Homo sapiens: one gene and its partners. The protein of the gene in region 3 interacts with the protein of the main gene of each other region in a pairwise test. Each region holds a gene or a part of one and is shown on either strand. Other genes may lie near its edges.

The links. The genes of interacting proteins can lie anywhere in the genome.
Region 1: the proteins of FOSL2 (region 3) and LUZP4 interact in binary tests that used the Homo sapiens proteins (3 or more experiments, as listed by UniProt).
Region 2: the proteins of FOSL2 (region 3) and DNAJA3 interact in binary tests that used the Homo sapiens proteins (3 or more experiments, as listed by UniProt).

The regions. Positions count from the first base shown.
Region 1 is NC_000023.11:115,285,328-115,292,733, reverse strand, and holds the start of LUZP4 (leucine zipper protein 4), read right to left. Parts: upstream 3,020-7,406; 5' UTR 2,975-3,019; coding exon 2,884-2,974; intron 1-2,883. UniProt on the Homo sapiens protein: Export adapter involved in mRNA nuclear export in cancer cells. Binds and enhances the RNA-binding activity of the nuclear RNA export factor NXF1. Can restore mRNA export function in cells compromised by loss of mRNA export adapters.
Region 2 is NC_000016.10:4,428,865-4,435,886, forward strand, and holds part of DNAJA3 (dnaJ homolog subfamily A member 3, mitochondrial), read left to right. Parts: intron 1-5,519; coding exon 5,520-5,653; intron 5,654-7,022. UniProt on the Homo sapiens protein: Modulates apoptotic signal transduction or effector structures within the mitochondrial matrix. Affect cytochrome C release from the mitochondria and caspase 3 activation, but not caspase 8 activation.
Region 3 is NC_000002.12:28,388,300-28,395,871, reverse strand, and holds the start of FOSL2 (fos-related antigen 2), read right to left. Parts: upstream 3,015-7,572; 5' UTR 2,152-3,014; coding exon 2,050-2,151; intron 1,325-2,049; exon of another isoform or gene 1,200-1,324; intron 147-1,199; exon of another isoform or gene 96-146; intron 1-95.

The DNA of each region.
Region 1 (7,406 bases), on a different chromosome or scaffold from region 3:
ATGGTGAAAAACTGAAAGCTTTTCTCCCTAAGATCAGAAACAAGTCAAGGATGTCCAATCTCACCGCATCTAATTAACATTTTGCTAGAAATTCCATCCAGAGCAATTAGTCAAGAAAAAGAATGAAAGGCAAGCAGATTAGAAAAAAGTAAATCTCTGTTCTCAGATATCATGATCTTGTATGCAGAAATTCCTAAAGATACACACACACACACGGAGATTAGCACTAATGAACACACTCAGCAAGGCTGCAGGATACAAGATCTATATGCAAAAATTAATTCTATGTACATATACCAGCAATGAACTATCCAAAAACGAAATTAAGAAAGCAATTCCACCAAGAAGAGCTTTCAATGGAGGAAAATTAGTCTTTTTAACAAGTAGTGTTGGAACAATTAGACATCAAAATGCAACAGAATGAAGTTGGCTCTTAACTCACCCCATATACAAGAATTAACTCAAAATGGATCACAGATGTAAATTTAAGAGTTAAAACTAGAAAACTCTCAGAAGGAAACAAGGGTATGATCTTCATGATCTTCTAGATTTGACACCAAAGCATGAACAACAACAAAAAACAGATAAATTGTATTTTATCAAATTCTGAAACTTCGGGACTTCAAAGGACACTATAAAGAAAGTTTAGGCCGGGTGAGGTGGCCCACGCCTGTAATCGCAGCACTGTGTGAGGCCGAGGTGGGTGTATCACTTGAGGTCAGGAGTTCCAAGACCAGCCTGACCTCTGCCTCCTGGGATTACAGGCATGAGCCATGGCGCCCCTCTTCATTTCATTACTTTTTTTTTTTTCTGAGATGAAGTCTCACTCTGGCACCCAGGCTGGAGTGCAGTGGGGCGATCTCAACTCACTGCAGCCTCCATCTCCCAGGTTCAAGCAATTCTCCTGCCTCAGCCTCCTGCATAGCTGGGACTACAGGCACGCAACACCATGCCCAGCTAATCTTTGTATTTTTAGTAGAGATGGGGTTTCACCATGTTGGCCAGGCTGGTCTCGAACTCCTGGCCTCAAGTGAGCCACCCACCTCAACCTCCCAAAGTGCTGGGATTACATGAATGAGCCACCAAGCCCAGCTGACCCTCTTCATTTCTATGGTACACTCTCCCTCCACTTATCCTGCCCCTTTTAAAGTTCAGCCCTCCCTGCTCTGCTCCCCTACCCTCATCTCTAAGGTGAACCCTCTTTCCACTGCTCCATCAATTTCTGAGGTCCACCCTCCTTGTTCCTGCTTCTCCTTGCTCCACTCCTGCGCTTCCACATTGAAGCTCAGCTCCCACTGCTCTGCCTCTCCCCCTCTCATTTCTAAAGTGGCCCTTGGCCAGGCGCAGTGGCTCAGGCCCACAATCCCATCATTTTGGGAGGCCGAGCCGGGAGGATTGCTTGAGGCCAGGAGTTCGAGACCAGCCTGGGCAACATAAGGAGACCCAATCTCTACAAAAATTTAAAAATTAGGTGGGCATGGTAGTGAGCACCTGTGGTTCCAGCTACTCGAGAGGCTGAGGTGGTAGGATCACTTGATTGAGCCTGAGAGCTTGAGGCCACAGTGAGCCGTGATCGTGCCACTACACTCCAACCCAGACAACAGTCCCTGACCTTATCTCAAAAATAACTAACTAGGCCGGGGGCGGTGGCTTATGCCTGTAATCCCAGGACTTTGGGAGGCCGAGAAGGGCGGATCACTTGAGACCAGGAGACCAGTCTGGGCAACATGGTGAAACCTCGCTCTACTAAAAAACAAAACAAAACAAAACAAAAAAACAAAAACCTAGACAGGTGTGGTGGCGCGTGCCTGTAGTCCCAGCTACTCTGTCGACTGAGGTGGGAGGATCGCTTGACCCCAGGGGGCGGAGGCTGCACTGAGCCAAGATGATGCCACTGCACACCTGCCTGAGAAACAGAGCAAGCACGTTTCACACACACACACACACCCCTAACTAAAGTAGCCCTTTTCTGTTTTGTCCTCCTTCCCCCATTTCTACAGTTTCCTTCTTCCGTGCTCTGATGCCCTTCTCCATTTCTAAAGTCAGCTTCCATCCTCTCTACTCAGCTCTGCTCACTCCCTATCTGGCTTGGAAAGTCTATTCCCTCCCCTCCTCCCCCATTTCTAAGATGGATAATAGCAGAGGAACTGGTCCAAGTAAAATCCACTTTTTCTGGGTTTGGTGCGAATGGAGGAGGTTAGGGGCCTTGATAAAGGAGTTCTTTTTTCTAAGGTTCCACTCTCCGTGTAGAGGTCTCAGGTTAGAGACTAGAGAGCGCCAGCAAAGAAAGGCTATCCAGAGCGAATAACCACCAGCCAACAAGCAAATAAATGGACCAACCACCCCTTCGAATAACCACCAGCCAACAAAGCAGATACACCAACCCACCAACAACTCCTAGCACTACCACGCCGGGATCCCTAGTAAAATAGCCTAAGGCTTGCTCCTCCGGGCCCTGGAATCTAGTGATTTATGACATCCGCTTGGACTGAGAAGAGCACTTGGCTCCATGTGTTTGAAGGAGGCCAGTAGTTAGGTATCAATTCTTAGGAGAGTAAAATACACGTTAATAGCGGTCTATTTTCTCCGCCTGCCCCTTTCAGCAATCCTTAATCCCCACGCGCTTCTGGTCAGCCTCCCTCAGTTCCCCACCTGAAAGGAGAGGGCTGGAGGTGAGGAGAAAAAGAGGAGAGGAGGGATAGGGGCCAAGTGGTCCCAGGGTTCGTCAGGGTGGGGCAGGTGCGGAGATGCCCTGAAGGGGAAGCCTCTCCTCGAACTGGTGTGTTCCTCCCGACGCCACTTCTAGTAAGCGCTATGCCGAGGTCTTGCGCTCAAGACCAGTGAGCCCAAACTAGTGGAGACTGGGATCCGAGATCTACATACCTAGAGACATATCTAGGAAGTTAACCTTTTTCCGACTGGGATGATTTGGCGGCACTTTTTCAGAAAGCGTTAGCTTCCGAAACGAAGCCATCTTCCCTGCATCATGGCGCCACACACTCCGAGGTAGGGCGCGTGTACCACCCCCTCACCGCGCAGGAGGAGCAGAGTGGTGGACTAACCTGATCCTCCAATCATAGCCTCTCCCTTCGGTGTTGCTAAGCCCCAAGGGGTGGAGCTTGGCGTTACCCCTCACCAAGTCTCCTATCAGGAGCTTGGCTCGCTAGAAGAAAAAAAAAGGAAAGACCCGCCCATCTCCCACCCGATACCCCTTTCTAAAAATATTCTCTCCACCTAGAGCACTATGTAGTTGGCTACAAGTTTCTAGTGTATGTGGTGTTCCGGCCCTTGCCTTTCACAGTTCCTAGGACCCATTTCTCCTCTTTGCTGTTGACATTCATGGCGAATAAAACCTTATAATCTTGACTTAATGGGCTGATGCTCTGCTTCTCTCAAATTCCAAGAGGGAGCACAAATTTAACATCTAGGGAGGATTCACAGGTTTGCAATGCCACACGCTTTCTTTTCTGTCTTTCTTTTCGTTTTTGTTTTTTGTTTTTTGTTTTTTTGAGACACAGTATCTCTTTGTCACCCAGGCTGGCGTGAAGTGGCGCCAACTCCGTTCACTGCAACCTCCGCCTCTGGGGTTCAAGCGATTCTCCCACGTCAGCCTCCCAAGTAGCTGAGATTACAGGAGCGCGCCACCACGCCTGGCTAATTTTTGTGTTTTTAGTAGAGATAGGGTTTCACCATGTTGGCCAGGCTGGTCTCCTGGGCTCAAGTGATCTACCCGTCTGTGCTACCCTCATACCACAGCGCCCACACTTTCCCTCCCTCCCTCTGTCCCTCCCTTCCTTCTTTCCTTCCTTCCTTCCTCCCTCCCTCCCTTCCTCCCTCCCACCCTCTCTTTCTTCTTCCTAACTTCTTTCTTTCCATCTGCCTTGGCATCCCTCCCTCACCGCACCTGGTTATTTCTTTTCCTTCCTTCCTTTCTTCCTTTCTTTCTTTTCTTTCTCTTTCTTTTCTTTCTTTCTTTCTTTTTCTCTTTCTTTCTTTTCCCTTTCTTTCTTTTTTTCTTTCTTTCTCTCTCTCTTTCTTCCTTCCTTCCTCTCTTTCTTTTCCTTCCTTCCTTCCTCCCTCCCTCCCTCCCTTCCTTCCTTCTTCCTAACTTCTCTCTTTCCACCCGCCTCGGCCTTCCTCCCTCACCACACCCGGCTATTCCCTTCCCTTCCCTCCCCTCCCCTCCCCTCCCCTTCCCTTCCCTTCTCTCCCTTGCTTCCTTGCTTCCTTCCTTCCTTTTTTCCTTCCTTCCTTCCTTTCTTTTTCTTTCTTTTCTTTCTTTTCTTTTTTCTTTCTTTCCTCGATCTGTTGCCAAGGTTGGCATGCCTTAACCTCCCAGGCTCCTCTTGGGCTGTAGAGATGGGGATCTCACCATGTTGGCCAAGCTGATCTCAAACTCCTGGCCTCAAGCAATCCTCCCACCTTGGCCTCCCAAAGTGCTGGGATTACAGGCATGAGCCACCATACCCGGCCTGCCACATGCTGTTCAATGACCTTGAAGATGTGTCCATGACATTTCTTAAGAAAAATGTAATTGTTCTTGTTATCACCTAATACTGCTCAATCAAATGCTACTTTAAAATATTAGAGAAATCTTGTCACTGGCTCTTCAGTAGAAATAAAAATCAAATTAATACATTTTCAAAGGTAAAAATATGTTCAAGCTATTACAGAATCCACAACATAAATAAATGCCGGAAGAGATTTTGAAAAATGTAAATTATTTAACTATTTATTGTATTTAAGTAAATGCTTCGCACCTGGGACCTAAAGATTAATAAATAAATCTGTTTCTCCATGCATATACAATTGCCTGAAGACAATAAATGCATGCAAAATATTAATTTAGGTGCTGTAATTTAGTCTGTCAACAAATACTGAGCTCCTGCTGTGTTAGGTTCTGAGGATACAGGTATGTACAAAATGTATTTGGGATTCAAAGGAGAAAATTCACCCAAGGAATCAAGAAAAAATTATTTAAATCCTGAGAAATTAGGGAATAATTGTAGGGGTGGGAATGGTATTTCTTGGCAGAGGAAGCAGCACCACTAACACACTGTGGAAAGTTCTATTCATTCCATGTGGTGGGTACTGAGAGATGAGTCTAAAGAGATCAACAGATATTAGATCATGGAGTGACTTTTATAATATATTATGCTAATGGTTTGGGCCTTTTTTTCTGTCAGATTTATTTTTCTGTCAGGTATGAAGTGAGAATGAAAGAGGATCAAAGATAGAACCCCAAGAAAATTAAAAAGAACATTGAGTAGAAAATATCAGAGAGATATGGGTAGAACCAGGAAAGAGGTATTCATTTATTAAGGGAGAACTCCAGGAGGAACCGACGGGTCCATCTTGTCAAGGGTTGATAGAAAGTCAAATAAGCTAAGAACTGATTAATTCATTAAATTTAGTAATTATGAGATCCGGTTTTTACCTTCAGCAGAGTTCTAGCAGGCTATAAACTGATAAACAACTAATTTTTATTTAACAAACACATAAAGCATTTACTATCTGCCCGGCATTGTTCTGAGAGCTTTACAAATATTCAATAATTTAATCTTCACAATAACCCCATGAGAAATAATATTATCTCCTTTTACCAGCAAGGAAAAGAAGGCACAAAGACATTTAAAAAATTGCCCAAGGACACAGAGCTGGTAAATGTTGCAATTACTTCAAACCCATGCAGTTCAGCTCTAAAAATCACGCTTGTAACTACTACCTTTACACAAGGTAGTATAGGGTGGTTTTTTTTTAATTATACTTTAAGTTTTAGGGTACATGTGCACAACGTGCAACTTTGTTACATATGTATACATGTGCCATGTTGGTGTGCTACACCCATTAACTCGTCATTTACATTAGGTATATCTCCTAATGCTATCCCTCCCCCCTCCCCCCACCCCACAACAGGCCCCATAGTGTGATGTGCCCCTTCCTGTGTCCATGTGTTTTCATTGTTCAATTCCCACCTATGAGTGAGAACATGCAGTGTTTGGTTTTCTGTCCTTGCAATAGTTTGCTGAGAATGATGGTTTCCAGCTTCATCCATGTCCCTACAAAGGACATGAGGGTAGTTTTTTTTTAATGGAAGAGATTAAATTAAACATGCTTATAGGTCATGAGAAAGGAGCTAGCAAAGAGAGACACATTAGAAATAAAGAAAAGGGAGGCCGGCCCAGTGGCTAACACCTGTAATCCCAGCACTTTGGGAGGCCAAGACAGGCAGATCACTTGAGGTCAGGAATTCCAGACCAGCCTGGCCAACATGGTGAAACCCCAACTGTACCAAAAATACACAAATTAGCCGTGCATGGTGGTGTGCGCCTGTAATCCCAGCTGCTTGGGAAGCTGAGGCAGGAGAATTGCTTGAACACAGGAGGCAGAGATTGCAGTGAGCTGAGATTGCACCACCACACTCCAGCCTGGGCGACAGAGCCAGACTCTGTTTCAAATAAATAAATTAAATTAATAAATAAAAATAAACAAAAGGAAGTAAGGAAATAATCAATGAATTTCCTTTCTCCCTAGGTTTCAGAATTGAGCCATAGTAGAGATGGGACCAGGAGATAACTTTGAAAGACATCGTGCTTTGCTTGAAATTGCTTGTTATTTGATTAATTTGATCTTGCATAACTTTCACTTCTCTTAGTTGAACTTCTCTGCCTTCATTCAAATAGGTTCTCTCAAATTCGAAGAATGAGCACAAATCTAGCATCCAGGGACAGACTTGCAAAACCACGCAGAAACCAAAGTGAGCCTTTTAAAACATCAGTCTTGGCGTGGTGCTCATGCCTGTAATCTCAGCACTTTGAGAGGTTGAGGCGGGAGGATCCCTTGAGCCCTGGAGTTCGAGGTCAGCCAACAAAGTGACAACAATGTGAGACCCCGTCTCTACAAAAAATTAAAAAATTAGCCAGGCGTAGTGGTGCATACCTGTGGTCCCAGCTACTCAGGAGGCTGAGATGGGGGGATCGCTTGAGCCAGGGAGGCAGAGGCTGCAGTGAGCCATTATCTCACCACTGCAACTCCAATCTGAGAGACAGAGCAAGATCCTGTCTCAAACAAAACAAAACAAAACAGCAGGGACAGTGTGGAATTCTGGCAACAGCAGTGGCAACAGCAAAAGCCAGTTTCTTGAGGCAGCAATGGCAGTGTTGCAAATCACAGTATCTAGTGTGTGGCAGTGGTGGCCTCTTCAGATTCGTTTTGATGTGTGATTTTAGCTAATACTATAAATTTCTCACCTCTCTTGGTTCCTGCACTTTTTCCTGAGCTTGATTCTTTAGACGTCATGGCTATTCCTTGAGCTATGTAACATAACAGGCTTTCAATAAATTTCTTCTATGCTTAAAGCAGCTAGGATTTGTCACATTCAACTAAGAACTCTTTCTATTGGCATC
Region 2 (7,022 bases), on a different chromosome or scaffold from region 3:
CCCATCTCTACAAAAAGATTTTTTTTTTTTTTTTTTTTTTTTGAGACGGAGTCTCACTCTGTCGCCCAGGCTGGAGTGCAGTGGCACGATCTCGGCTCACTGCAAACTCCGCCTCCCGGGTTCAGGCCATTCTCCTGCCTCAGCCTCCCGAGTAGCTGGGACTACAGGCACCTGCAACCGCGCCCAGCTAATTTTTTGTATTTTTAGTAGAGATGGAGTTTCACTGTGTTAGCCAGGACGTCTCGATCTCCTGACCTCGTGATCCACCCGCCTCCGCCTCCCAAAGTGCTGGGATTACAGGTGTGAGCCACCGCGCCCGGCCAAGATTTTTTTTGTTTGTTTGTTTGAGACGGAGTCTTGCTCTGTAGCCAGGCTGGAGTGCAGTGGTGCGATCTCGGCTCACCATGATCTTGACTCACCGTGATCTCGGCTCACCGCATCCTCCGCTTCCTGGGTTCAAGTGATCCTCTTGCCTCAGTCTCCTGAGTAGCTGGGACTACAGGCACGTGCCACCACTCCCAGTTAATTTTTGTATTTTTAGCAGATACTGGATTTCACCATATTGGCCAGGATGGTCTCGATCTCTTTACCCATGATCTGTCCACCTCAGCCTCCTAAAGTGCTGGGATTACAGGTGTGAGTCACCGCGCCCGGCCTACAAAAAGATTTTTAAAAATTAGCTGACTGTGGCCGGACATGGTGGCTCACGCCTGTAATCCCAGCACTTTGGGAGGCCTATGCGGGCGGATCACCTGAAGTCAGGAGTTTGAGACCAGCCTGATCAACATGGAGAAACCCCGTCTCTACAAAAAATACAAAATTAGCCAGGCCTGGTGGCGCATGCCTGTAAACCCGGGTACTCGGGAGGCTGGGGCAGGAGAATTGCTTGAACGTGAAAGTCGGAGGTTGCCGTGAGCCGAGTTAGCGCCATTGCACTCCAGCCTGATCAACAAGAGCGAAACTGTGTCTCAAAAAAAAAAAAATTAGCCAACTATGGTGGCAACTGCCTGTACTCCCAGCTGCTTGGGAGGCTGAGGTGGGAGTTTCACTTGAGCCCAGAAGGTTGAGGCTGCAGTGAGCCATGATGATGCCACTGCACTCCAGCCTGGGCAACAGAGTATGACTCTTTCTCTACCAAAAAATTAATAAAGTCATCAACTGAGAAGCCATGTGGTGGCGAGCCTCTATAGTCCTAGCTACTCAGGAGGTTGAGGTGGGAGGATTGCTGGAGTCCAGGAATTTGAATTTGGCCTAGGCAACATAATGAGACCCCTGTCTCTTAAAAAAAAAAATTTTGAAAAGGTCATTAACTCAGCGTCCAAACACTAGTCTGTGATCTTGTCTCAAATCTAGTAGTAAGATGACATAACAACATTTTAGATGTGACTTTTCTTCCAAGCAGAAAGAAAGCAGTTGTTGGTGGCCAGGTATGGTGGCTCATGCCTGCAATCCCATTACTTTGGGAGGTGGGTTGATCGCCTGAGGTCAGGAGTTTGAGACCAGCCTGGCCAAGATGGCCAAAGCTTGTCTCTACTAAAAATAGAAAAAGTTGGTCAGGCGTGGTGGCGGGTTCCTGTAATCCCAGCTACTCGGGAGGCTGAGACAGGAGAATCGCTTGAACCCAGGAGGCAGAGGTTGCAGTGAGCCGAGATCGCGCCACTGCCCTCCAGCCTGGGCAACAAGAGCCAAACTCCCTGTCAAAAAAAAAAAAAAAGAAAGCAGTTGTTGGACAGTGGGTTGGCCATTCTTAGAACGACTTGGAGGCTTATTTTATTCTGGGTTGTTCTAAAAAGGACAGGACATTTACTGGTCATATGTGATAAAATAAATAGTCTATTAAATGAAATCTAATTATTGTTAATCATTGATGCCCTATGGATAATGTCAAAAGTCATCAGACTGGGGATGGTGGCTCATGCCTGTAACCCCAGCACTTTGGTAGGATGAGGCCGGCGGATCACTTGAGGTCAGGAGTTCGAGACCAGCCTGGCCAACATGGTGAAACTTCTTACCTACTAAAAATACAAAAATTAGCCAGGTGTGGTGGTGTGCGCCTATAGTCCTGGCTACTTGAGAGGCTAAAGCAGAAGAATCGCTCGAACCTGGGAGATGGAGGTTGCAGTGAACCGAGATCACACCACTGCACTCCAGCCTGGGTGACAGAGTGAGACTCTGTCTCAAAAAAAGAAAAAACAAAGCCATCAGTCTTGTAATTAAACGTGATTTGTCTTTATCCACATGCAGTTTTGTGCGTTACTATCTCTGTACTAACTCCTGTCCGTGTTCTCTGCCCGTAATGTTGAAGCCACAGCTGCCACAGGTCACTACCAGCCTCCGCCTTGTGGCATTGGAATGAGTGGTGAGAGAGAGGCTGGACTGGGCCGGGCAACCCCTTACTCCGAAATAAAAAGAGGGTTGAGTACAAGTTCAATAATAAGTCAGGTCTAGTGTTTTCTCAAGTCTGACTGAAGAAACACAAAGTGGTCTCCTGACCCCTACTACTTCCAGTGTGCTTTTTGTATCCCGAGGATATTGGGTGTGCCAAACACACGGATTTATTTCCTATTTCTAATTTTAAGTATCCTGACCATTCCTATCCATTCTCCTGTCTGATCATCCTTTACCTGGCCTCCTACTTGGATGTGCTCAACCAACCTCTGGTTGTGTTTTGTGCTGATTAACTTCGAGTAGTCTCCCAGGCTTCCTAGAGTTGTTTCTCTTTTTTTTTTTTCAGGTGGAGTCTTGCTCTGTCGCCCAGGCTGGAGTGCAATGGCGCGATCTTGGCTCACTGCAACCTCAGCCTCCCAGGTTCAAACAATTCTCATGCCTCAGCCTCCCAAGTAGCTGGGATTACAGGCGTGCACCACCATGACCGGCTAATTTTTGTATTTTTAGTAGAGACAAGATTTCACCATGTTGGCCAGCTTGGTCTCGAACTCCTGACCTCAAGTGATCCACCCGCCTCGGCCTCCCAAAGTGCTGGGATTACAATAGGCGTGAGCCACCTTGCCTGGCCTAGAGTTGTTTCTCATGCAAACCTAATGGGTTCTTTGTTTAACATTTGCAGTGGCTCCCTATTGCTCTTAGGATAAAATCCAGACTCCTTAGCATAGCTCTAAGGCCCTTCCTATTCCTAGGCCCCATTAATCGTTATCATCTCTAACCACCACTACCACCACTGCCATCTAGTTTAGTTATAGGTATAAATCTGTATGGATTCAAAGTCCTCTTTAGCCTATTTCTGTCTCTCTCTCTTTTTTTTCCATGTCATAAGTTTATTTACAAACATCTAGTATGTCATATAAGTTCAAGTCTTTGATCCATTTATTTATTTATTTTTAATAGAGACAGGGTCTCTGTGTTGCCCAGGCTGGTTTCGAACTCCTGGGCTCAAGCGATCCTCACGCCTCAGGTTCCCAAAGTGCTGGGATTACAGGCGAGAGCCACTGTGCCCAGGCTTATTTTTCTTTCTTTTTTTTTTTCTTTTTTTTTTCTGTGATGGAGTTTCACTCCTGTTGCCCAGGCTGGAGTGCAATGGCGCGATCTTGGCTCACTGCAACCTCTGCCCCCCAGGTTCAAGCGATTCTCTTGCTTCAGCCTCCTTACTAGCTGGGATTACAGGCATGTACCACCACATCCGGCTAATTTTGTATTTTTAGTAGAGATGGGGTTTCTCCATGTTGGTCAGGCTGGTCTCTAACTCCTGACCTCAGGTGATCCGCCCGCCTTGGCCTCCCAAAGTGCTGGGATTACAGGCAGGAGCCACCATACCCGGCCCGGCTTATTCACTTTTTAAACAGATTTCATCTATTAAAACACCTCCAGTCTGGGCGTGGTGGCACACGCCTGTAGTCCCAGTTACTTGGGAGGCTGAGGCAGGAGAGTCGCTTGAACCCAGCAGGCGGAGGTTGCAGTGAGCCAAAATCGCACCACTGCACGCCAGTCTGGGCAAGAAGAGCGAAACTCCGTCTCAAAAAACAAAGAAACAAAAAGCCTGCCGGGCACGGTGGCTCACGCCGGTAATCCCAGCACTTTGGGAGGTCGAGGCAGGCGGATCATGAGGTCAGGAGATCGAGACCATCCTGGCTAACACGGCGAAACCCCGTCTCTACTAAAAATATGAAAAAATTAGCCGAGTGTGGTGGCAGGCGCCCGTAGTCCCAGCTACTTGGGAGGCTGAGGCAGGAGAATGGCGTGAACCCGGGAAGTGGAGCTTGCAGTGAGCCAGGATGGCGCCACTGCACTCCAGCCTGGGCGACAGAGCGAGACTCCATCTCAAAAAACAAAAAACCTGCTCTTCCTATCTGTTAAGTGGATGAACTAAAACATCCTTGTTTCTTAAGCAGTTGGTGTCTTGCTATTAAAAAAGGTGCTGTGAATCCAGATCCAAAGTACAAAGTCATCCTAGTTAGTAACCGCCATTTGTTTTCCACTGAAAGTGGCAAATGCTTTCCTGGGCAGCTTAGCCAGTTTCTGCAGCTTAACAGCTGATGCCTAGAAGTTCTTCCCCGACCTTCTTAGATTGATTTGTCATTGGTTCTCAGCAGGGGACACTTTTACTTCCCAGGGGACATTTGGCAATGCCTGGAGACGGGGAGTTCTCTACTGGCATCTAGTGGGTGGAGACCTCCTGAGTTTCTGGTGAATGTCTGGAGTAGGGCTTGAACATCTGTGTTTTCATCAGTCTAATGATGCTGTTGGTCCAGGGAGCGCAGTCTTGAGAACTGCTCCTTAAGTAGATACCCAAGGCTGCAAGATAGAGGGAAAAGAATGTGGGGAGTTGTTAAGCATTAAATGTGACAGAAAAATATGAAAATATGAAAATACCTAGCAAATGGTAAGTGCTCATGTGGCATAAGAGGGGGGAGCTGAATCCCTTTTTAATCATCTCCCAGTCAGGAGTATTATTCCTTTAGTGGTTTACTGAGACCACTCCAGTAGTATAAGCGAGGAGAATCAGCCTCATCCAATACTCTGACATAGTTTAATATTAATTGAATACTGTGGCTTCCTTAGCCATTATTGAAGTGCATTAGGGAACAGCCCTAAAGCTGTAGCCTGTGTATTAGTCTGTTCTCATGCAGCTAATAAAGACATACCTAAGACTGGGTAAATTTTAAAGGAAAGAGGTTTATTTAACTCACAGTTCAGCACGGCTGGGGAGGCCTCAGCGATCGTGGCGGAAGGGGAAGCAAACACATCCTTCTTAACATGGCAGCAGGAAGAATGAGCAAAAGGGTGAGCCCCTCATAAAACTATCAGATCTCATGAGAACTTACTATCGCGAGACCAGCATGGAGGTAACCGCTCCTGTGATTCAGTTACCTCCCATCAGGTCCCTCCCATGACACGTGGGGATTATGGGAACTAAAATTCTAGTTGAGATCTGGGTGGGGACACAGCCAAACCTTATCAGTTTGTTTGTTCCTTCACAGATATAGCCTGGTGGGTCATGTACTCACAGTTTTCTTTTGTTGAGAACATTCCCAGAGTGATTTTCTTTGTTTTTTCCTTTTTAGGAACAAAACATAACCCTTTCATTTGTACTGCCTCCTTCCACACGAGTGCCCCTTTGGCCAAAGAAGATTATTATCAGATATTAGGAGTGCCTCGAAATGCCAGCCAGAAAGAGATCAAGAAAGCCTATTATCAGGTCTGTATGGAAGTCAGGTTTTGGTGACCAAATTGTAGTAGGAATGTTGTTGATCCCATGTGATCCTGATCAGTACAGCGTATGTGCCCATATGAATAGGTCTCATGAGCTGATAGTATAGAAGGGTGTGATAAAGCTGGACTTTGCTAGACTGTTTTTCGATGCACAATGCTGTAGAGGTTGGTGCTTCAGAAAAAAGAGGTGAGTCCAAACCAGAGATTTTAAGAAGTTTTTTTTTCTAGAGCTGTTTTCATAATTAAATTTAATCTGTATTTTCTGAATCAGTAGATATGCTAGTCTAAGTTTTAGGTAGTTATTTTTTGCATCCAGATAAAAGTTTAGAGGTTTAGAATTACTTCCTTTCCTTTCTTTTTTTTTTTTTTTTTTTTTTTTTTTTGAGATGGAGTCTCACTCCATTGCTGAGGCTGGAGTGCAGTGGCGCAATCTTGGCTCACTGCAACCTCTGCCTCCTGGGTTCAAGCAGTTCTCCTGTGTCCGCCTCCCAAGTAGCTGGGACTATAGGCACCTGCCACCACACCCGGCTAATTTTTTTTGTATTTTTAGTAGAGACGCGGTTTCACTTTGTTGGTCAGGCTGGTCTTAAACTCCTGACCTCAGGTGATCCACCTGCCTCAGCCTCCCAAAGTGCTGGGATTACAGGCGTGAGCCACCGCGCCTGGCCCTTTCTTAACCTGGAAAATGTGAAATTCCCATTGTATCCCAGGGTCTATTAGGGTAGTTAGGGTAGCTGAGTAAAGTTGTATACGAGATGTCTACACCACTGGTTCCTAGACCCTTGGTTTGCTCTGACCAACAAAATAAAATCAATATTGGAGGCACCATTGTAGGATTGACAGCTTTTTATAAGTGCACAGTTCACTGGAGTTGTGCACCTGTCACCACAGTCAACTTTAGGACATTTTCATTACCTCGAAAAGAAACTCTGTATTCATTAGCACTCCCCTTCCATTGTCCTCTCTCCCCGGTCCCTAGCAGCTGCTAATCTGCGTCCTGCCTCTTTGGATTTGCCTATTCTCAATATTCATATACAGGGAATCATACAATATGTATCCTTTTGTGTGTCTTGGCTTCTTTCATTCACATAATGTTTTCAGGGTTCATCTGTGTTATAGTTTGTGTCAATACTTCATCCCTTTTTATGGTCAAATAATCTGTTGCATGGATTAATCACATTTTGTTTATTCATCGTTTGATGGACATTTGGATATTTTCCACTTTTTGCTATCATGAACAGTGCTGCTATATAGACATTCATATGTAAGTTTTTGTGTAGACATGTTTTCAGTTCTCTTGGATATTTAGGAGTATAGTTGCTGAGTCATATGGTAACTGGATGTTTAACCTTTTG
Region 3 (7,572 bases):
GACAGAAAAATCCACCAGTTCCTCCTCGTCCCCCACCCAACCACCACCACACCAAGGAGCGGACAGGCCAAGAAACTTGTCTCAAGTGGCATTACCTTGCCAATCCCTCCGGTTTGAAAGGCGCCTCACACACTGCCGGGCCGAATGGGCAGGCGTCTATGCGAAACCCCGTGCACTGGTTATTGCTAATTGCAAAATACTCATGTGTTACAGCATGCTAGGAATTAGCCAACAGCTGCTTTTTGCTTCGGTAATGAGGCCCTATTACACTCTGCTGGACTGAGTTCTCTTCCTTCTTCCTAGCACTGGTTTCCTGTCTGATTTTCTTCCAAAACCGGGAATTGCCTCCGCTCACATCCTGGGCTCAAAGCCCTAGTGACACAGATTATTCAGTTGGGGCACTGATGTCCGGTCTGACTTCCCTCCAGGCCCCAGGGTCTATGCTAAACCAGGCAGTGAGATTGTAATACTCCAATGATCACTGCTAAAGACACATTAGGGAAAAGAACAGAGAAGAAATCAAAAGATCCCTTCCTGATTTCAGGGAGGAGGAGACAGACAGGCGTTTGGGGTTTGTCGAACGGGAGACGGAGGGAGTGGGTACAGACTTCAACCTATTCCCTCATTATGTTTACATTCAACACAAACCACTAGCGGGGCTGGGAAGCAAACATAATCAACAACTTTTCGGATTTTAAACTCATCACCTTGGTGCTCATTACGAAGGGTGCATTGACTGCACCCTCAATGAACAGACTAGGCTGTCTCTACTGTGGGTGCTTATAGGAGCACCATGGGAGGCAGAGGGAAGACAGAAAAGCCATTTTGGGGACTCACCAGGTATAGGGAATCACTTTGGAACAAGGGACCCCCCCATCAGATCCAAAAGAGAGCCACGTTCCAAAATTCTTTCCAGCTGAGTCCACCCCTCCCTGGAAGCCCACCCTAGCCCCTTCTAGAGGCCAAGGCCACCGCCTTATGGAGCATGAGCATCCCTTGCTGCAGCCAACTATGCTAGACTCCACAGATGCTGACCACGGTGGGCTTCATGTTGTATTGGGCCTGCGTTAACCCAGCTCTCTCTCGAGACAGAGCGGGTGGGGGAGCTGCAGCAGAGGGCAGACACGCCATCAGCACCCCCCCGCCAACAGCACCTTCCTGGTATTTATAAACACAGAGATCACACGCACAATCCCTCCAGTGCAAACCAGTCCGGCTGCTTTAGAAACAAGTTGTTTTCTGCTTCCAGAACCACCCAGGAGCCTGCGTGATGTCTCTTCCCCCACCCGACCCCCTCTTCCCTCTGCCGGTCTCCTTGCTCCAGGTACCCCCAGACCCTCAAGGTGCTCCTTCGTTCCTGGGGGGCAGTGCAGCCTCCTGTCCGTGATCCTTACAGAAGACGGGTCGGCGGGGGGGCAGGCAGGCAGGCAGGGGGCACACAGGCGGCATGAGCCAACCAAGGCTGGCTTCTTCCTTCCTGACCTTCGCACCTGATTCCCAGAGCGGCAGCCCTCGCCCTCGCTCCAGATTACTTGAAGGAGTCCAACCATGTTTCTGGGTCCCCAACCCCTTTCAGAAAGGAGTTATGACTGATGGAGAACGGGGAGGAGAGAGAGAGGGCTTTCCTGAAGGAATAGGGTCCCAGGATGTCGAGAGGTGCCAGTGGGTGCAAAGATTTTCTTGTCTGTCCACCACCCAGAGAGAAGACGCGGGGCAGGGGTGGGGGGGGGGGGGCAGACACTGGGGAGGGGGAGTAGTTCTTGGAAGGAGGTAACAGGCTCCTGGTAGGGGGCCTACAATTCCAGGAGTCTATCTGGGTAAAATATAACGTGAGAGGAAAAGGGCATGTTGTCTCTTCAAGCCCACTCTCCAATCCCCTAGTTTAAAAGGGGGTGGGGGGGAAGGGGAGGACGAAAATCCAGAACTTACAACGGTGGCCCGTAGGTATTTTCTCGCCAAGAAAAAGAAAAGAAAGCAAAAGAGGCAGTGGCGGCGAGAAGAGGGCAGGGGTCCGCCCGCGCCGCCAGGTGCACCGGGGCCCGCACCTACCTGCTGGCCGCCGCCGCCGCTGGAGTAGGACTCGGCGTGCGCAGGAGAGCCGCTGCTGCCCCGGGACGAGGTGTCAAAGTTCCCGGGATAATCCTGGTACATGATCCGCGGTGGGGGCCGGAGAGGAAACAGGGTGTTTTTCTTCCCCCGCCCTCGCCGCGGCCGCGCACCGGCTGCTGCGCGCTCGTTCGTCCGCCGGCCGCGCCGCGGGCTCTGGGCTTCGCTCCTGGGTTTCTCCCCCACCGCGGAGGGCGAGGACAGGGAGGCGGCGACACCTCAGGAACAGCGTCCCCCGAGCGTCCCTTACAGCACTTCTTTCCGGCTCTGCGAGCGCCGCGGGACCAGTTGTCCACCCGATCCCTCCCTCTAAAAAGTCGGCGCGTCTCTCGGTCCCTCCCCTGCGCGCGCCCTCCCGCCCCCGCGCGCAGCCGGAGCTCAGCGGGGACCCACGGCCCAATCAAAAATTGGAAATTAAAAAAAAGATTAGGAGCCCAGCGAGCCTGGCCTGCCAGCCCTGGGGACCCCCGATTTCAGACAGGGCCAAAAAGGCGGAAAGAAAAGCTGTCCGCTGGGAGAAACTTCTGTTTCTTCCTTTTAGAAAAGGAGCCGGAGAATAAACTTCCCGTGGCCGACTCGCCGCCCGAGTTTCGGGGCGGCTCGGATACTTGACTAGGAGAAGGCGGCGTGCGCCCGTCCCGCGGCCCCGAGCGCGCCAGGGGGACAGCGGCTCGTGGGGCTCAAGTAGAGCTGGCGCTGAGAGGGACGCGGCCCCGCTCCCCGCTCCGGCGCCCAGACCCGCACCCCTTCCCCGGAGCCCGCTCCCGGACGGGCCCGCCTCGCCCGGCCGCGCCTCTCCCTCTCTCTCTCTCTCTCTCTCCCTCTTTCTGTCCCCGCCGAGCGCCGCTCGTTCGCTCGCTCGCTGGTTCGCTCGGAGCCCTAGCGCTCTGCCCGAGATGAGTCACTACAATGGCACGAGTTCAACTCACACTCTTTATTCTCCAGCCCTGTACCATGTGGATTCACTCACGTCAACCCCAGACTCCACCTTGCAGGGAGGAGCGCACGAGGAGGCGGGGGGAGGAGGCCGCGGAGGAGGAAGAGGCGCGGGAGGGGAGGAGGCGGGCGCAGCTCTCCCCTCCCAGCCCCGGCTCCCGGCCGCGCTGACGCCAACCGCGCACCCCGCGCGAGGAAGCCAGGCGGTGGCACGGGCGGGAGCGGGCGCCACGCACGGTTCGGAGGCGCCGAGGCAGCCCCGGCCCTCCCCAGTCCCCCGCTCACCCCCCGGGCCCAGCGCCCTTGGTCTGTTCCATTGGCGCACGTTGCCAAAGATGGTCATTTGCGTTAGAGGACGCGAGTGCGGGTTTCCTCGCTTTCGGGTGACGTGGAGGGAGAGGGATTCCCTCGCCCGCTCCCGAGTGCGCTGCGGCCTCTCCCCCGCCCTGGGAAGGGGCTCGGGGCGGGGCCCCGAGAGCGGCCGCGCGGGTCTCGCCTCCGGATTTTAGAAAATAATCACAGCCCTGACGGCGAGACGGGCGGTTCGGTGCGGCGCCACCGGGAGGCCGGGAGCCGGGCGCGCAGAGCCGCTCGCAGGGAGGGCGCGGCTGCGCGCGGTCGTAGGCGCCCTCCGCGGCGCCGCCGAGTGCAGCGGGCGCCCCGGGCGCGCAGGGTGCCCGCGCCGCCCTGCGGCCGGGTGTTGGCGGGGCACGGCGCCGGGCGGGGCTGGCCTGCCTATTTTTCCCTCCGTGGCGGTCTGCCTACCGGTTCCCTTTTTGTTTTTTGTTTTTCATGTTTTCGGTCCTACAGTTAATTCGTTAGGAGTAGCCTTGAAGATGAAATTAACCAGTCAAGACATTCCGGCCGCCCTATACGCCGGGCAATTAGGACGCATCTAATAAGAGTAATCGGGCGTTTATAAGCAAACTCCAGACTGTTACGAATTAAAAAAAAAAAAAAAAAGCCAGCGAGAGGGTGTGCCCCAACGTTGTCGTCTTCAGCTGTTTTGGAGCGAAGTTCAGGGCGCGGGTTGCCGGACATTTGGGTCCTCCTCCCTCGCTGGGCGGGGCTGGGAGGGGCGCGGCGCAGGGTACAGAGCACAGACCTTAGAGCAGGAACGCCCGGCTACGCTATTTACGAGCTGTGAGATCTTGGACGAATTCCTTAACCTCTCTGGGCCTCAGTTTCCTCCTATAAAGTGAAGGAGTTTGGAGACATGACCTTAGGCCCTTCTCTGCTCTGGAGCTCCAATCCTTCCGCTGAGATGATGGTGTGTGTGAATGGAGAAGTACTGTAGCGGAAGTCAGGGAACTTAGGTTTTGGTCCAGGGTCTGTGTTAGCCTCAGTTTACCCAATTCTTAAGTAGCGCCAGCCATCTGTACCCCACAGGGTCCTTATGAGGACCCAATGTTAAGAGGTGTTGAGAGTCCATTGCTGACAACTCGCTGTGCACCGTCACACAACTTCTGTCCTCAGTTTCCTTATCTGCAAAGTGGGGGTGTTGGTAGCAGAGAAAAATAGAGCCGGGAACGCGAAGCTTTCCTGGGGCTCTATATAAAGCGCTGGCATTTCCGGGACGGCTGGCGGCATCTGGCCGCCCCAAGGGCCCCAAGATACGGTAATCCCAAACAATACTCGGGGTCATTGTTTACAGCTATAAAACACATTCTGTCCTGAACGCTATCCCCAAGGACGCGCGCGCGTGCGCGACGAGGCGAGGCCAGCCAGACTCCTCGCACCTCCGCTGCTGCCCGCTGGACAGAGTCCCCAACTCCGCAGGCCCAGGAGAGGGGTGTGGGGCAGGCGGACGCGCGCGCCGGCCGTGGGTGCTTTGCTTTTTTCTTCCCCCTCCCCATCCCTGCGTCCTGGCTTGCCTGGGTGTTTACGCGCCTCTCCCAGCAGGACTGAGTAAATGCAGTCCTTTGACGCAAAACGAATCAGTCCTTCCCCAGCGGCAGCAGCAAAACTCAGAAAACTGGGGGTGGGGGTAGGGACGGGAGGGGCACAGAAGAAATCGTGACATTTTCCCACTCGGTTCTCAGCCCCTCCCCGCGCCACGCGGGCCTCAGGCCGCCCTAGCCAAGTCTTGGGGGCTGCAAAGGGAGGCGCGGCCAAAGCGCCCTGCCTGAGCCCTCCCAGTAGCAACCGCGTGTCGGAGCGGCGCGAACAGACGCACTTTTGGTTTTCCTTTGAGCAGTAGAGGCTGCCCCGCCCTCCCCCACCTGGCGGTCGAAAATCCGGGTGCTTCTGGGTCTCTCCCACACAGTCCTTCCAGTAACGCGGGGGGAAAGAGGCGGGGGAAGGGGAGCGGGAGCTTCCTCCGCGGCCTCCGCAGTCCCGGGCGCGCCCAGCCCCGGCCAGGCGCCGCCGGGAGCGCGCGGGCGAGCGCACCCTCGCGCCCTCGCCCGCCCTCGCCCTGCCAGCTCCCCGGTCCTTTCCTTTCTTGTGGGTTCCCGTAAAGCCCAGCAGCCTGGAGACGTCTGCAGAGCATCACGGAATCTGTGCTGATGCAATTCACTAGCCTCCCTTTGGTGCGCCCTGGCCTGCCTCAGAGCGCTTTGATCCCGGCCCTCTCCTACTCCAGAACTCGTGCTGGCTCCCTCTGCCCGCCGGGAGGCTTGCGTTCCGCAGCCCGCTCACCCCCTTTCAGTCCCCCCAGCGCCGGACACACAGCGCTGTGCCCTGGTGCTGCTGCGGGACTGACCTCCCCCGGTTGAGCGAGTGCCTCAGCGAACTGTGCCTGCCATACAGAGAATTCAGTCTCCAAGTGCCCTCTCCTTGGGAAATCATTCCAGAATCATCCAGTTAGAAAGGGTCCTCTGGCTCCCTGGAATGCTAAAAATAGAGGTGACCCTTTATTGAGTGCTAAAATCAGAGCCAGGCACCATGCTGAATACAGGGCTTGTTCTGTGAAATTCTCACAGCAAACGCTGGAGGTGGGTATTATTCCCTGGTTGCAGAAGAAGACAGTGAGATTGAATAACTTGTCCAGGGGAACTGGTTAGTGAGTTAGTGATCTGTTAGGAGTGCAGCTGAGATTCTCCGACACCAGGCTCTTCTTTTTCCCCAGGACATGGCATGACCTGCCTCCTGTTGGAATGTCTTTGTCTCTCTCTTACTGGTCTTGAAAGGCATGGTCTTTATCTGGTGCATGACTTTATCCTACACTTAGAGGTGCGCCTTAATTCTCCACTGAACAAATAGCCTCAGCGGCATCCCTCAGCTTAGAGAAGAGGCCATGTCAAGTGAGGGAAGGGAAGGGGAAGAGGGAAGCTGGGGTGGGAAGAAAAGGGTAGATGAGCTGGGAAGAAAAGGGTAGGTGAGCTGTCTTCTCATTGCCTCTCTGGGTCTCTGAGACCTCTCTTGCCTTACTTTTGCCGGTCTCCTTGTTTGTCCATCCTGGCCAGTGTTTGGCCCCTGAGAGATGAGGAATCCCAGAATAGCTGCCCCCTCAGAGCTGTGCTGGCCCACACATCTCAGCACCGGATACATGAAGCCCTTTCACACACATCGCCTCATTTGTCCTTACACATGACATCTCTGAAAGGGATATAGACAGCAGAGTGACTCTGGATTGCCAGAAAGGAGGCCGAGGTGCAGAGTGTCACAGCAGCCTACTCAAAATTTTCCAGCTGTAAGTGTCAGAGCCTGAGTTCAAAGCCATCTCACCTGACTTTAAACCCAGCGCTTTGCTGTTTGCCATGCTTCCAACCTTGTAAGTTTAGGAGCAAACTCCATCTTTTTTTTTTTTTTTTTTTTTTTTTTTTTTTTTTTTTTTTTGGAGACAGTGTCTTCCTCTGTCTCCCAGGCTGGAGTGCAGTGTCGTGATCTCGGCCCACTGCAACCTCTGCCTCCCAAGTTCAAGTGATTCTCCTGCCTTAGCCTCCCAAGTAGCTGGGATTACAGGCACACGTCACTGCACCCGGCTAATTTTTGTGTTTTTTGTAGAGATGGAGTTTCACCGTGTTGGCCAGGCTGGTCTCAAACTCCTGGCCTCAAGTGATCAGCCCGCCTTGGCCTCCCAAATTGCTGGGTTTACAGGCATGAGCCACTGTGCCCAACTTACATCTCTTAATGATACACTGTCCTCTATATCCATCATGCCTGAATGAACCTGCCATCATTTCTTTATAGTAAGCCATACTTTTTGATGATATTGTAACATTTCTGAAAGCCAGATGTATCTTATAATCGATGACTATTGAATATGCAAGTGTTGCCGTTTTTGTCCAAAGACCTGTGAATCAGTCATGGGTCCATCAGGAAACAGACTTTAACCCAGATGGTTCAAAGGATGATGCTTTAATGGAGAAATTCCTTATAGAGGTATGGGCAGAGTTAAGAGGGAACTTGAGGCACCTAGAGCCTAGTAACAGCAGGAAATGATGACCATCCCTAGGGTTGAAAAGAGGAGGCAATCATGTTATTGGAGCCTAGTGAGCTTGGGACCATGAAAGAGGGGCCATCCAGCAGGTAGAGGGAAGGAGCCACTGCCAGAGATAGCCTGCTGAAAGGGAGGGAGGAGTTGGG